Linked DNA regions of Homo sapiens: region 1 is linked to region 2. A link means that fine-mapping ties the variant in region 2 to the plasma level of a protein whose gene starts in the linked region. Region 2 holds a variant in brackets. A gene starts in the other region. All regions are shown on their reverse strands.

Region 1 (2,924 bases), not on the chromosome of region 2:
GGACCCTGTAAAACCTTTCCTGCAAGCTGGCTACTAAGACGCCTTGCTCTCTGGTCAATCCCACTCACACAGACACAATTAACATCACTCTTGACCAGGAACTTATTCTATATAAAAGGGTATTCTATATACTGAGGTATTTGGCAGTGAATTCCTCTTACCCATCTCATCCCCAAACATGACATTGCAGAGCATCTTCAAGTCCTTGGGGCAGAGTAAGGTAGGGAATCCAGTTTTCCTTTTCTGCCCCCCTGAATGGTCGATGGGGTCTTCCCTCCCTGGCAATCACCTCCTCACTCCTTTCCTAGAGATGCTTGGTGGGAAAGGCATCCTTTTCTCTTAGTTCTCCCTAACATGCTATCCCCTGAAGAACTCCAGGAGGTCAATATATAAATTTAAAAATCAAGTTTACTGAGATTATGCTTTATATACAATAAGATGCACCCATTTTCAGTGTATAGTCTGATGAGTTTTGGTAAATGTTTATGCATATGTAGCCACCATCACTACCTCCCTATAGACTATTCCTATGATTCTAAAAAGATTCTTTTGGGAGCCTTCCTACTCAATCCCCACCATCTCCAGGCAACCACTGATCTGCTTCCCACCATTAGAGATTAGACTAGTTTTAGATAATAGATTAGGTCATTACACTTTTGAGGAGAAATTCTTTTTTTGCTGCTGACCAGCATTCACTACATCAATAAAAATAAATGCTAAGCTTTGGGTTTGTTTTTATATAAGAAATGACAAAAATGCCCATTTGTAAGAATTGTTTCTTCCACTTCCCACCTTAAAGTAATGCAACGTTTCAGGGCAAAATTGCCTTCTTCATGAGTGGGTTTGCAGTACTGATTGTATCTTTCACAATATCTGTTGAAAATAAATTCCTCCTTTTAAAATTACAAGAAAAAAAGCCTGTGACTTAATCTTTTCAAACAAAATGACAATAACAGAAAAACCCAAAAGAGTAATTCCCTTAGGTCTACCCTTGAATCAGCCAAGTTTGTGGCTGAGTGAAATACACCGCTCCTGCCAAGCCTTCCTCTCATTGCAGGAAATAGCTGCACACAGGGAGGAAACATGAGCTGATGCATTCCCCACCCTGCCTCCCCCCATGTAGTTCCGTAGGGAACCATTCCAGAAACTTAAGAAGCCTGTGTGTACACCAAAAAAAGCCACAGGGAAAAACCCCTCAAACATCTTACAAATGCTCAGACTGATAAAGACATATTGAATCTATAAACATCAGGACAATTCAGGAATGTGCCTGCACAGTAAGAAACTCAACTTACAATTTGCACTCAAAAACAAGCATGATTATGCATTCTTATTTCACTGACCTCATGACTGCCCTCTGTGTCTCTGCTGTTCCGAAAAGCTGGTGACCAGGCTGATTTGTTCTTCAGAAGTCTTCCTGTCTGCCTCAAGTAAATACTGAAGGAACTATATAAAGGGGTGGGAGAGTAGGGCACGCATCAGCTGATGTTTTCTCCGTTTTTGAGTAATTGCTTTTAGGGGAAGGAAGAGGAAACTGGAAAGTGAAACTAATTTAAAATCGTTGGGAGGAGGAAAATGAAACCTAACGGCTTGAGACCTGCAATGGCTGAGCCAGAGTACGTTATTCAAAACTGTGACTAAAATTTGTTTGAGAGAATGTGGAAGCATTCCTAATGTAAACCAAAAAATTAAATTCTAAGGCCATACTCACCAACCATGTGACTGGACCCCTGCTTTTGGCCAAGGGCATTCCAAAGTTAACCTGAAAACTGATGTGAAGGGGAAGCTGGATATGCCTCATTACATCCTTTTTCCTTTTGGAATTACTAATAGAACACACTCTTTTTTTGTTTTTGTTTTTGTTTTTTTTTGAGACAGAGTCTTACTCTGTTGCCCAGGCTGGAATGCAGTGGCATGATTGCGTCTCACTGCAACCTCTGCCTCCTGGGTTCAAGTGATTCTCTTGCCTCAGCCTCCCGAGTAGCTGGGATTACAGGCACCCACCACCATGCCCGGCTAATATTTGTATTTTTAGTAGAGACGAGGTTTCGCCATGTTGGTCAGGCTGGTCTTGAACTCCTGATAGCAGGTGATCCAACCACCTTGGCCTCCCAAAGTGCTGGGATTACAGGCATGAGCCACTGCACCCAGCCAGAACATGCTCTTTTTAAGTGTATTAAGAAACATTTACAACCTATTCTCTCTGAAGCCTGCTACTTGGAGGCTTCATCTGCATAATAAAACCTTGGTCTCCACGACCCAGACATTCCTTTCTAATGATTGTCTATTGAATTTCTATTGGATGTCTCCAAACATTCCTTTCTATTGATAATAACTCTTTCAACAAATTGTCAATCAGAAAATCTTTGAATCTGCCTATGACTTGGAAGCTGCCCCGCTTCCCTGTTTCCAATTGTCCCACCTTTCTGGACCTAGCCAATGTACACCTTACATGTATTGATTGATGCCTTATGTCTCCCTAAAATGTATAAAACCAAGTTGTGGCCTGGCACATGTTCTCAGGATCTCCTGAGGGCTGTGTCACAGGCCATAGGTCATTCATATTTGGCTTAGAATAAATCTCTTCAAATGTTTTACAGAGTTTGACTTTTTTTGTCAACATTAGGTATCTGACCATCAGTCTAGGGTGGGGCCCAGGAAACAGCATTTTTTAAGCCAATTCTTATTATTTTTAAAAATTTTTTGTGGACACATAGTAGATATATATATTTATGGGGTACATGAGATATTTGATGCGAGCATACAATGAGTAATAATCACATCAGGGTAAATGACTTCAAGCATTTATTCTTTGTATTACAAACAATCCAATTATACTCTTTTAGTTATTTTGAAATGTGCAATAAACTATTGTTGACTATAGTCATCCTCTTGTTCTAACAAACACTAGATCTTATTAATTC
Region 2 (2,924 bases):
AGCCCAGGAAGCTGAGGTTGCAGTGAGCCAAGCTTGCTCCATTGCACTCCAGCCTCAGTGACAAGCGTGAAACTCTGTCTCAAAAAAAAACAAAAAACTGAAAACTTGAAAAACAATTTAAAAATCAAATATTTAGGAATAAATATCACTAAAGATATTCAAAACTTAAAAACATAACTGGGTAAATTTGAAGAGGAAGTAATTGACAACTATATCGTGTTCATTTTTCCTCAAATTGTTCTAGATTTAATGCAATCAGTTGAAATATGATCAGTTTTTTAAATTAAATTGACAAACTGATTAAAATATGTATTCATTTATTTTTTGAGACGGAGTCTCGCACTGTCGCCCAGGCTGGAGTGCAGTGGTACCATCTCGGCTCACTGCAACCTCCGCCTCCCGGGTTCAAGCAAGTCTCCTGCCTCAGCCTCCTGAGTAGCTGGAACTACAGGTGCATGCCACCACACCTAGCTAATTTTCATATTTTTAATAGAGACGAAGTTCCACCATGTTGGCCAGGATGGCCTTGATCTCTTGACCTTGTGATTCGCCTGCCTCGTCCTCCCAAAGTACTGGGATTACAAGCGTGAGCCACCGCGCCTGGCTGAAAGGACGATTTTTTTTTTTTTTTTTTTTTTTTTTTTTTTGAGACGGAGTCTCGCTCTGTCGCCCCGGCGGGACTGCGGACTGCAGTGGCGCAATCTCGGCTCACTGCAAGCTCCGCTTCCCGGGTTCACGCCATTCTCCTGCCTCAGCCTCCCGAGTAGCTGGGACTACAGGCGCCCGCCACCGCGCCCGGCTAATTTTTTTTTGTATTTTTAGTAGAGACGGGGTTTCACCTTGTTAGCCAGGATGGTCTCGATCTCCTGACCTCATGATCCACCCGCCTCGGCCTCCCAAAGTGCTGGGATTACAGGCGTGAGCCACCGCGCCCGGCCCGATTTTTTTTTTTCAATAAATAATGCTGGGTCAATTGGATATCTATGTAGGAAAAACATGAACCTTGATTCCCTACCACATATCATACACAAATTTTTTTTTTTTTTTTTTTTGAGATGGAGTCTTGCTCTGTTGCCCAGGCTGGAGTACAGTGACACTATTTTGGCTCACTGCAACATCTGCCTTCTAGGTTCAAGCAATTCTCCTGCTTCAGCCTCCTGAGTAGCTGGGATTACAGGCGCATGCCACTATGCCCGGCTAATTTTTGTATTTTTAGTAGAGACGGGGTTTCACCATGTTGGACCAGGCTGGTCTCGAACACCTGACCTCAGGTGAATCGCCCGCCTTGGCCTCCCAAAGTGCTGGGATTACAGGCATGAGCCACTGCACCTGGCCCCACAAAATTTAATTATAGGTGTGAGCCACTGCACTTGGCCTAAAATCATTTTTAGTTATAAAAATAATACTAGGTCATGGTAAAAAAAATTAATTGAGTGTAGAACCTACAAAATGAAACTGGTAATACTCTTCCACCTCCTGCCAGCTCCACTAGTCCCACTCCCAGAGGGTATATATAGACATTATGAATCTTGCTTTTTAAAGTAAAGTTTTAAGTGGAAATTTTTTAAAAAGTTCCAGTCACTTGGAAAATATTCATAAGCAAATATTTCAGTACTATTTTTACTGTTTCTTAGATTTCTGCACCTAATGAATTTGATGTCATGTTTAAACTGGAAGTCCCCAGAATTCAACTAGAAGAATATTCCAACACTCGTGCATATTACTTTGTGAAATTTAAAAGAAATCCGAAAGAAAATC[C/A]TCTGAGTCAGTTTTTAGAAGGTGAAATATTATCAGCTTCTAAGATGCTGTCAAAGTTTAGGAAAATCATTAAGGAAGAAATTAACGACATTAAAGGTAAGACTTTTGCCTTTTGATTCTTAAAGGTTTAATTATACCTAGTAATTGCCAATGTACACTCCCATTCTCATGTTTCTTGACCTCTCTGCAGTAAGAAAAAGTGCAGTAGAGAGGTCAAGAAACATCAGTAGAGGAGTGTACATTGGCAATTACTTATAATATGATTACAAGATTATAAAGTACAGAAGGGTAGAGGTCTTTATCTATTTGTTCTCTAATGAATCCTAAATAACTAGAACACCTACACATTAGATAATCAATGAATATTGATTAAATTAAATGATTAAATTATATGAAATAATCAATGAATATTTATTAAATTGATGGATAAATGAATCTACACTCTCTGCCTAGGTATTTCATCCATTCCCAATGCCACCTATATGATGATGACTCCCAAATGTTTACTTGCAGCCCAAATATATCCTTTGCACTCCAAACCTATATCCAGCTACGTCCTTAACATATCCACTTTGATGTTGATGTACCACAGGAATCTATAACCAAACATATCCAAAGCGAATAAACATAACTTAATTCATATACCAAACTATGTTTTGCCTCAGTCCTTCCCATCTCAGAAAATGGCACAATCAATCCACCCAGACGCACCATCCAGAAACCTGGGAACCATCTTAATTTAATCCTCTCTGTTACCCCCTACGCTTAATCCAGATGCAAGTGCTGCTACAGCTTGGACCTGTCTGCTGCTTCAATCCCAGCACCCTACTCCCACCCCACCTAAGCTGCCACCATCTTTTACCTGAACTATTACATCATTTTCCTTTCTAATCTCCCTATTTGCCTTCTTATAATATCTGTCCTTAGAAGCCAGAGTAAATGTTTTAAAATACAAAGCCAGTCATTACTCTCTGATGAAAACCTGGCTTCTCAATGATCAGATAATAAAATCTGGTGCCAGGCGCAGTGGCTCACACCTGTAATCCCAGCACTTTGGGAGGCTGAGGTGCGTGGATCACCTGAGCTCAGGAGTTTGAGACCAGCCTGGCCAACATGGAGAAACCCCATCTCTACTAAAAATACAAAAATTAGCCGGGTGTGGTGGC

Which allele goes with the higher level. Alleles are on the strand shown, and positions count from the first base shown. The strength of an association depends on the size of the effect and on how common the allele is.
For the plasma level of the protein whose gene starts at base 1,425 in region 1, allele C in region 2 goes with a higher level than allele A (moderate association).

Evidence for each region. A credible set is the group of variants that fine-mapping cannot tell apart. PIP is the posterior inclusion probability: the model's chance that the variant is causal. Protein levels are from antibody-based Olink assays in UK Biobank. Linkage for the fine-mapping came from a reference panel and not from the study's own genotypes, which makes the PIPs less certain.
Region 1: it holds the start of IFIT3, and the variant in region 2 is the best candidate, but not a certain one, in a credible set for the plasma level of the IFIT3 protein (UK Biobank, PIP 0.59).

The regions. Positions count from the first base shown.
Region 1 is chr10:89,326,498-89,329,421 of GRCh38, reverse strand. It overlaps IFIT3 (interferon induced protein with tetratricopeptide repeats 3), which reads right to left and starts at 1,425. Exons shown (of 2, transcript NM_001549.6): 1 at 1,344-1,425. The coding sequence starts at 1,348. It also overlaps a transcript of LIPA not described here. RefSeq lists a silencer at 1,048-1,097 and an enhancer at 1,418-1,657.
Region 2 is chr6:73,444,458-73,447,381 of GRCh38, reverse strand. It overlaps CGAS (cyclic GMP-AMP synthase), which reads left to right. Exons shown (of 5, transcript NM_138441.3): 2 at 1,635-1,854. Among named protein-coding and RNA genes, the nearest start is that of CGAS, 6.4 kb to the left of the region's middle. The variant C/A (reference allele first, on the strand shown) is at 1,759.